Regions from separate parts of the Homo sapiens genome. Here regions 2 and 3 are each linked to region 1. The links come from fine-mapping of genetic effects on gene expression. A gene starts in region 1. Each other region holds a variant in brackets. All regions are shown on one strand. Distances are between the middles of the regions.

Region 1 (2,772 bases):
CCATTCATGGTAAGTGTTCCATACAGGTATACCATTTTTTATCTTTTATACCACATTTTTACTATACCTTTTCTATGCTTAGATACACAAATACTTACCATTGTGTTACAACTGACTACAGTATTCAGAAAAGTAGCATACTGAACAGGTTTGTAGACTAGGAGCAATCGGCTATATACCATCTAGCCTAGGCCTGTAGTAGGTGATACCATCTAGGTTTGTGTAAGTGCACTCTATGATGTTCACACAATGACGAAATTGCTTGATGAGACATTCCTCAGAATATATTTAATAAATTGCTTAATGAGGCATTCCTCAGAATAAATCCCCATTGTTAAGTAATGCATTTTGCTAGGTGTTATGGAAAATTCCAGACTGAAAAAACTAGGGTGTCATCCCTCGAAGACTGCAGTCCAGGACAAGACACACACACATGATAATAACTCTTTTGAAAGGCAAATTGTCTTAATTGCTGTGCTAAAAGTATAAACTACTGTATAGAGAAAGAAAATATTAATTGCAACTAATGGCTAAGAAAAGACCTCTTGAAAGACATGGGGTCTGACCAACCCCACAAGAAGCTATGAGGAGAGTTGCAATCCAGACAAAGGGAAGGTTGACTCAACAACCCCTTTCCATGGGAGGAACAGGCCTCCCATGTGGCCGGGCCTCTGGAGCTTGGCAAGCGTATGCTGTGGAATTTAAGACCCATGGCTGAGTGGAGATCATTGGGAAGACTCTGGGATTTAGATTACAGAGTTTGGGAGTGTATGGATGCTTTGCCCCATAGTTTATCAGGATTATTTCAATCTTAAACAACCAGGGCTGTGGTTTTTGACCTTCTCTGTAGAAAGACACATTTGCATGTATATCATAAGGTATCCCGATCCCTCTTTCATTTGTTTTATTTCTTTAATCTACCTAAATTAAGACCTGAAAACTCAAGATCTTCCAAGTTATGAGCCCCATAAGAACCCATGGCTTCCAGGCGGAGGGGAAAGATACCACCTTTTCTATAAACTGAGACAAGATGGCAAAAGAATTGCCTAGAAGCCTAGTCCAGGTGCTGTTTTCTCAGCTACTCAAAGAGATCCTTCTTGCTCCTTTAGGAAAGGGGGATTCCTAGACCTCTCCAAACCTCAATCACCCTGGGATGCACAGATGCCAAGGGCTCGGGTGTAACCCTTAAAATCCCCGCTTCCCGGGGGTCAGCGGCACCATCAGCAGCACCGCAGTATAGAAGTTCCGGTCCTTCCAGCTGCTGGGATTCTCAGCTTGAACTCTTCCAGGAAACAAGTTCTTTTCCGCTTCTCTTGCGAAATCCAGCAGACCGTCCCGCCCTTCTCTGGCTTCTTATAGCAGCGAGAGCCACAAGCCACAGCGCTGAGCTGCAGGCGCGGCGAAACTTCCCTCTACCCGCCCGGCCCGCGGCGCGCACCGTTGGCGCTGGACGCTTCCTCCTTGGAAGCGCCTCTCCCTCAGGTGGGTCACTTTTCGCCACAAGGCTCCCGTCCCTTATCTGCTTCAGCTCACCTCCAGTCCCTGCTGCTAGGACCCCACTCCCCAGCCCATCGCACTGAAGAACAGGTGCTTGCAAACTCCCCGCCGCGCCCCGGCATCACTTTAGAGGAAAGTCACCTGAGGCTGCTCCGCGATTCAGCAAGCTTCTAACTTCCTGGAGTTTAAGGCTCATCCCTACCCCAGGGTGCAGACAAGCCCAAAGGGGGAAAATTAAGGGGTTAGATTCTTCTCTGCATCTTACTTCTGGATTGGCGCACTCTTGGGGCGCCCATCAAAAAGTAGGCTGGAAGAATGTGGCTTTAGCAGTCAGTCTCCAAGGTCTCAGATCCGAGGCTGCTTCTTGACCAGGCACTAAAAATTTGTCCTGATACCTGCAACCACTTCCATTTTTTTATCTTGATTTAAATTTCCTCTTGCAATTTAAAGGTTATTTTTCTGGAGGAAGATTGTTCAGAATATAATTTATTGTGAAGAGTAAATAAAGCCTCAGTTCCGTTTGTTTGTCCAGAGACAGAATTTTATTATTCTTTTTCCCACCTCTAGATGGTAATTTAGGAACTTTCTTTAAAAGATTGGTGTACTGAGGCTGGGTACGGTGGCTCAAGCCTGTTATCCCAACACTTTGGGAGGCCAAGGCCGATGGATCACTTGAGGTCAGGAGTTCGAGACCAGCCTGGCCAACATAGTGCAACCCAGTCTCTACTAAAAATACAAAAATTAGCCAGGCGTGGTGGCAGGTGCCTGTAATCCCAGCTACACAGGAGGCTGAGACAGGAAAATCACTTGAACCTGGGAGGTGGAGGTTGCAGTGAGCTGAGAAAGTGAATTGGATAGAGAATGGGGGAGGGGAGGAAGAATACTATTCCTAGTTCTATAATAACTAGAACCTCATTATCTCAGCCTCAGTTTCCACAGATGTAAAATAAAAGGCTGGCTACTGGGCCAGATGATCCAGAAAGTTCAACTCTAACAAGGTGAAAAGCCGTGACTAAAGATGCCTGCAAGTTTGAAATACATAGAAAATCTCCTTAATGCTACAACTATAATTCAGTGGTTACTTTTTTCATAATAATGCATGTTCCATTTTTATAAGGAAACTCTCCAGTTGTCGGGGGAAGAGTCTCTTCCCACAGGAGCATCTTAAAGTTCTGCCACATTTATCATTCAGAGAATACTCTCAGCTTTCAAAACCATTCTTCAGCCTTGCTATGTGAGAATGTCCTATTCCCTACAAATGGCAGTCATATAAAT
Region 2 (2,772 bases), 190 kb before region 1:
CATCTTCTCAACCTAAATTATTGTGAATTGTAAGCAAATGTGAAAAATCCAGATGAGATTTCTATCCTTTCCCAAGTTATCTACCATCTGACTTTTCAGAGTTAGTATAATGCTATCTGGGAGCTGGCTTCATCAACACATTTTTCAAAATTTCCTAAATCATGAGAAATGTTTGTATCTGTCTATCTTTTAAATGTTAATGGTTAGGGTTTCATGTAATATATATACATAAAATATATGTTATATATATTATACATGTTATATATATATATATATATATATATATATATATATATCACTGAAAGTTCTATCGTCCTTCATATAAGAGTTAGTTTCAACATCAGAACAAGAAAAGGATTGTTTCTAATTCCCATACTAATAGGGTATTATGTCGTCTATGAAGGGCTTTAACCAATAGTTAAAAGATGAGAGGCTTCTTAAGAGGATAAATGTTTCAGCTGCACACAAGTTATTCAGCTCCTGTCATCAACCACAAGCGTTACAGTGCCAGACTTCATGAGCACAAGATGAACAGCCTGGAATAAGCAATGCATGAGAACTTTCCCAGATGTATAGTCAACCCACTTTCTGCCTGCTCACAATTTTACATACCTTTCAGTTACTCTGAGTCCTAGATGTAAAATGCAGTAGTCAGGGATATCGCATGGATTTATGGCCTTTTCTGGCGTGCTGGGAGACTCCTGCCTTGGGCGAGGATTATAATCATTCATATATGTACGGTTTCTTTTTTCCTCTGTGGCAGATGTAGCATTGATGTCTTATTTCAGGAAGTCACTTCAAAATAATTCAAGTCAAAGATATACGTGAGAAATCCACTTAACTATTTCCTAGCTCAAGTACAAAAATTAAGCTAAATAAAACGGAGAATATGAGATTGCTTTGTAGCAGGTAGCAACGCCTTTACTGAAGCAACTACATCGTAGTTCCCTGTAGGCAATGACCACTGGACATTTTCGCACAAAGTAACGCACTTCAGCCTCTGTGGTGACACAGAGGCTGGTGGAGGGGAGCAGGCTTATGGGTAGACTTAGAATTTGCCATGCTTTAAGATCAAACCAAATCCAAACATTCTGGATTTTATAATAATCCCCTAAAAATCTCAGGGGCACATTTATGGCACTCACACATTCAGAAGGCAGTGCTCCTGCAACAAGAGAACAACACTGAATCATCTGGTCTATTATGATCCATTCCAGTTCCTCAGTTGCTGTGCTAACAGCATTAACAGGTACAATTTATTGAGCGCCTACTAGATGGCAGACTCTGATCCAGACACTTCACCTACATTATCTCAAGGCATCATCACAATTCTTAAGGTAGGTACGGAGATGCCCACTCTACAAATGAGAAAACTAAATTTATAGAGGTTAAGTACCTTGCTTGTAAGTGTCATGGCCATGATTAGAAATCACTTTGTTATATTGCATACTCCTCACAAGACAGTGATTCCGTCTTCTAAGGAATAAAATGATAAATAACGTGGAGGTTTTGTGCTGAGAGAAGTCATGTGTGCTCAGATCATCTCCTTAGAGAACCATCTCTAGATCTTCTCACCTTAAACATCACCTCTCTTTCACCTCACTACCCCCCAAGAGCATAGGGTATGACAAAGAAAGGGGAAAATAAGGTTGGTAGATA[C/T]CAGGGATGGTGGGGAAAGGGATGAGGAGGTAGGACTTTGGTTTTATTTAAACATGTGTAAATATAACAAAAATATGAGGCAAATATGGAAAATATCAATGAATTATAATTCTAATTAGCCAGTATATTGGTTTCTGTTACATAATCTTTATACTTATCTCTAAGTTTGAAAAGTTTTATATTTAATTAAAGAAATTTTATTTAAAAAGTAGGTCTGGGCAAAATCAGGACATAAATATTAATACCACACTACTGTTTTACAGTTTGGTCTGAAAGTGATAGTTATTGAAGTTTCTGACAAGTGAAACGACAGTCTTGAGACTGTGATAACTCTCATAGCTGAGTGAAGAATGGATTGAAAAGGGAAGAGATGGATGAAGGTCAGGTGAATAAGTAAAAGGTCACCTCCATAATTATGGAGGAAGGTAACTAGATCTGTGCCCTGTTAAGGGCAGAGGAAGTTAAAGATGGGATAAAAGTGAGAGATTTCTGGTGGCAGTGTCCATGGAACTTTGTGGCTGACAGACTATCAAGGACAGGAGTACTGATAAGAATCGAATATAACTCCAAGCTTTCTGGGACAGTCAGTTAAACTGACCCAAAAGCCACGAAGAAAGTGGTGCAGGTTTGGAAGGAAAAGTTATTAGTTCAGTTTGGGGCCCCTATTCAGATATGTTGACAGGATATTAAAGTGAGATATCCACAGATAATACAAATAGGAGCCTAGAGCTCCAGAGGAAGATGAGGGCTAAAGACAGACAAACCAGGGTCTTCTGTGGATGTCATCATCAAGGCCATGTAACTCAATAGGACTGACCAAAAAGGAGAGCAGAATGAAAGTAGAAAGGTATACAGAGAATGGGGGGAAAAATTTAGACTCCAAAACACAGTATAGCTAAGAAATGTGGACCTTGTGTAAACACATCCTCAGCAAGGAAATTCTCAGGATCTTGAATAACTCCTCAGGGCATCAGGGTAGAATAGAATTAACATCATACCTATTACGTTCCAGAAACTACTGTAAGTATTAATGTAATACTACTTTTTTTTCCTCACAATAGCTCTCCGAGGTGATATAATGATGTCTGTTTTATAAAAAAGGAAACTGAAACT
Region 3 (2,772 bases), 37 kb after region 1:
ACCTTCTTTCACATATATGGAAAGATGTCCAAAATATACTGTTCAGTTTTTAAAAAGGTACAAAATAACATATATAGTATGATTCCTTTTGCATATGTGTATTTGCTTTTAATTGCCTAAAGAAACTCTCAGAAGGATTCAAAAGATCCATACCAAACAAGATGGGAGAACAGAGGAGTAGTGACAGGAGTAGAAGCACTGTAGACCTTTTCATATCATTTTGGTTTTTAAATTACATGAGTAGGTTACCTAATTATTAAAATAAATTTAATTTAAAAGGTAATGGGGGATAGGAAGAAATTTGTTAAAAGATACAAAATTACAGCTAGATAGGAAGATTAAGTTGTAGTGTTCTATAGCTCTGTAGGATGACTACAGTTAACAATAATATATATTCTAAATAGCTAGAAGGAGGATATTGAATGTTCTCAACAGAAAGAAATGATAAATGCTTAAGATGATGGATATACTAATTACCCTAATCTGATCACTGTATATTTTGTGTATTGCAATGTCACTATGTACCCCATAAATATGTATAATTATCGTGTGTCAATTAAAAATTTTTAATTAAAAAATTATAAACAAAAAATTTTTTAAAGTAATTGATTGCATATCCCTGCTAAATCTTATCTTACGCTAAACACCAGCACATTCACTGTTTTCTCTTGTATAAAAATTTCTAAATCTTTCATCTTTCTGGTGCCTCTTGTTCAGATCTACAAACATTTCAATGTTCCTTTTAAAACACAGTTCCCTAAACCAAAAACATGATATTTTTCCCTTCTTTCACATTCTGTAATTAAAATAGTATTTAAATTCCTAGTAGACATTTTAGGAATATTCAACAACAAAAAGTTGTCCATTATTTCATCTGTATTGGCATTTTTCCCCATATGAAAAAGACTTAAAATACTTTAATATAAAATAAATTTTCAATAAAAATAGTTTTTATAAAACTGGCTAAAAATAGCAAGTAGGCATCAAAAATATAACTCCAGTTGAGGTGCAGGTTTAGAGTATAACGTGATTGTTGCTTCTGTTATTCTAACTTGTGAGTCTCTATTAATTTAGTGTACATGTTCACTGTAAATTTTTATAGTCGCAAAATTTCAGGATCACATCAAATAATATGCCTAATTTCTTTTCACATAAAGCATTAATTCCAGTCTCTCCATAGTCTGCCCCTCTAGCCCCATCTCTGCCCCCTTCCACCACCAAACCATCCACCCTACACTGATTACCATTAATATTTTTAAACCTAAGTACAAAGCAAAAATATCTTGCACTATCTGCACTGTCTTTGCAATAATGCTATAAATCTAAAATTATTTTAAAATACTATGACCCTAACATTGTTCTAAAATAAAAGGTTTACTTAAAAAAAAGCACTCACCATATTCTTATTAAAGTTTATCTCATATAAATTAACCTATCCTTCAGCATAGAAAATTGTTTTAAATATTAATTCCCTTTTCCAAAAGATATGCTCTACACATATTTCCTAAACATGGCCTCCATGTCTTTATTTTAGTTTTTGATAGGAAATACAGAAACGTTATCCATAACCTCCAACTCCAACTATAGTGTTTTTTAGACTACATGAAGCCTAGAGATTATCTAATAGTATACATTCATTTCACAGATGTG[G/T]AAACTGAACCCAAGAGGGTGAAGTAATTTCTGCAAGGTCACATAGCTACATTGCAACAAAGCAGAATTGGACCACAGATGACTGATTTTCAGGCTAGGGTTTTTTCCGATCCTTTTGAAATCAGGTGATTAAGTTGAAAACAAGCTGGTTGTAGATCCAAAAAAAAATGGGGGTCAAAAGGGCTGATCCGAAACAGGTATATCCAGTGACAATTTTGGACTTTTCAGTCTGTGATGAGTACTTTGCCTTTAAAAAACATGACAGAGACTAAAGAAACAGAATTATCTAGTGGTATATTTAGGCTGACTGTGATTATTGGAATTCTAAAGAATGATACACAACATTTTCCCCTTCTTTAACGTTCTCTCATTAAAATAATATTTAAAGTCTTAGTAAACATTTTAGGAATATTCAACAACAAAAAGTTGTCCATTATTTCATCTCTGTTGGAATTCTTCCCCATATGAAGAAGACTGTTAAAACTGCTTTAATATAAAATAATTTTACAATAAAAATAGTTTTTATAAAACTGGCTAAAAATACCAAGTAGACATCAGTGGCAGTCATGGAAGATGACCTACTCAGATGTTCCTTCAAGAGAACCTGCTGCAAGGAAACATAACAAATAAACAACTTTCAACTGGCCCACATTATTGATAAGCACCACGTTATTCACATGATCCACATTGCCCTTGGGCTGCTCCCAGGCAATGACCATGCATAACAGAGATACTAGAACAAAGCCATCATTGCCTCAAAAGAGCTTCCTCTAATGGATCATTGCCTCATATGAGCTTCCTCTAATGGATCATTGCCTCATATGAGCTTCCTCTAATGGGCAGCATTTGCTTGGATGTTCCCACTGGGCCAGCCAAGACCTTTTCACATCTGCACTATGATCTGGATCTCCTCCTATCCAATGTTTCCCTTGCCTTCATCTTTTGCACGTGTAAGACCAGCATTGCAATATGAAGGCTCCCTCCTCCTTTATCCTTTAAGTCATTTCTTCCAATAAATCTCCCATCCTATCTTGGTACCTGCTTCTTGGAGAACCTAACTGACAAAGCATCACAGGCAGAAAAGCAGCAAAATAAATAACTTTTGTTAATAACATTAGATAA

What was found. PIP is the estimated chance that this variant, and not a neighbour inherited with it, causes the effect.
Region 2: its variant is fine-mapped to the expression of STEAP4 in monocytes after LPS (Fairfax 2014, PIP 0.95).
Region 3: its variant is fine-mapped to the expression of STEAP4 in whole blood (TOPMed, PIP above 0.99).

The regions. Positions count from the first base shown.
Region 1 is chr7:88,305,502-88,308,273 of GRCh38, reverse strand. STEAP4 (STEAP4 metalloreductase) reads left to right here and starts at 1,380. Exons shown (of 5, transcript NM_024636.4): 1 at 1,380-1,482. The region is part of intron 1 of LOC124901692 (a long non-coding RNA gene); the gene reads right to left.
Region 2 is chr7:88,498,131-88,500,902 of GRCh38, reverse strand. No RefSeq gene overlaps it. Among named protein-coding and RNA genes, the nearest start is that of STEAP4, 190 kb to the right of the region's middle. The variant C/T (reference allele first, on the strand shown) is at 1,660.
Region 3 is chr7:88,268,712-88,271,483 of GRCh38, reverse strand. STEAP4 (STEAP4 metalloreductase) reads left to right here. Exons shown (of 5, transcript NM_024636.4): 5 at 1-592. Among named protein-coding and RNA genes, the nearest start is that of STEAP4, 37 kb to the left of the region's middle. The variant G/T (reference allele first, on the strand shown) is at 1,651.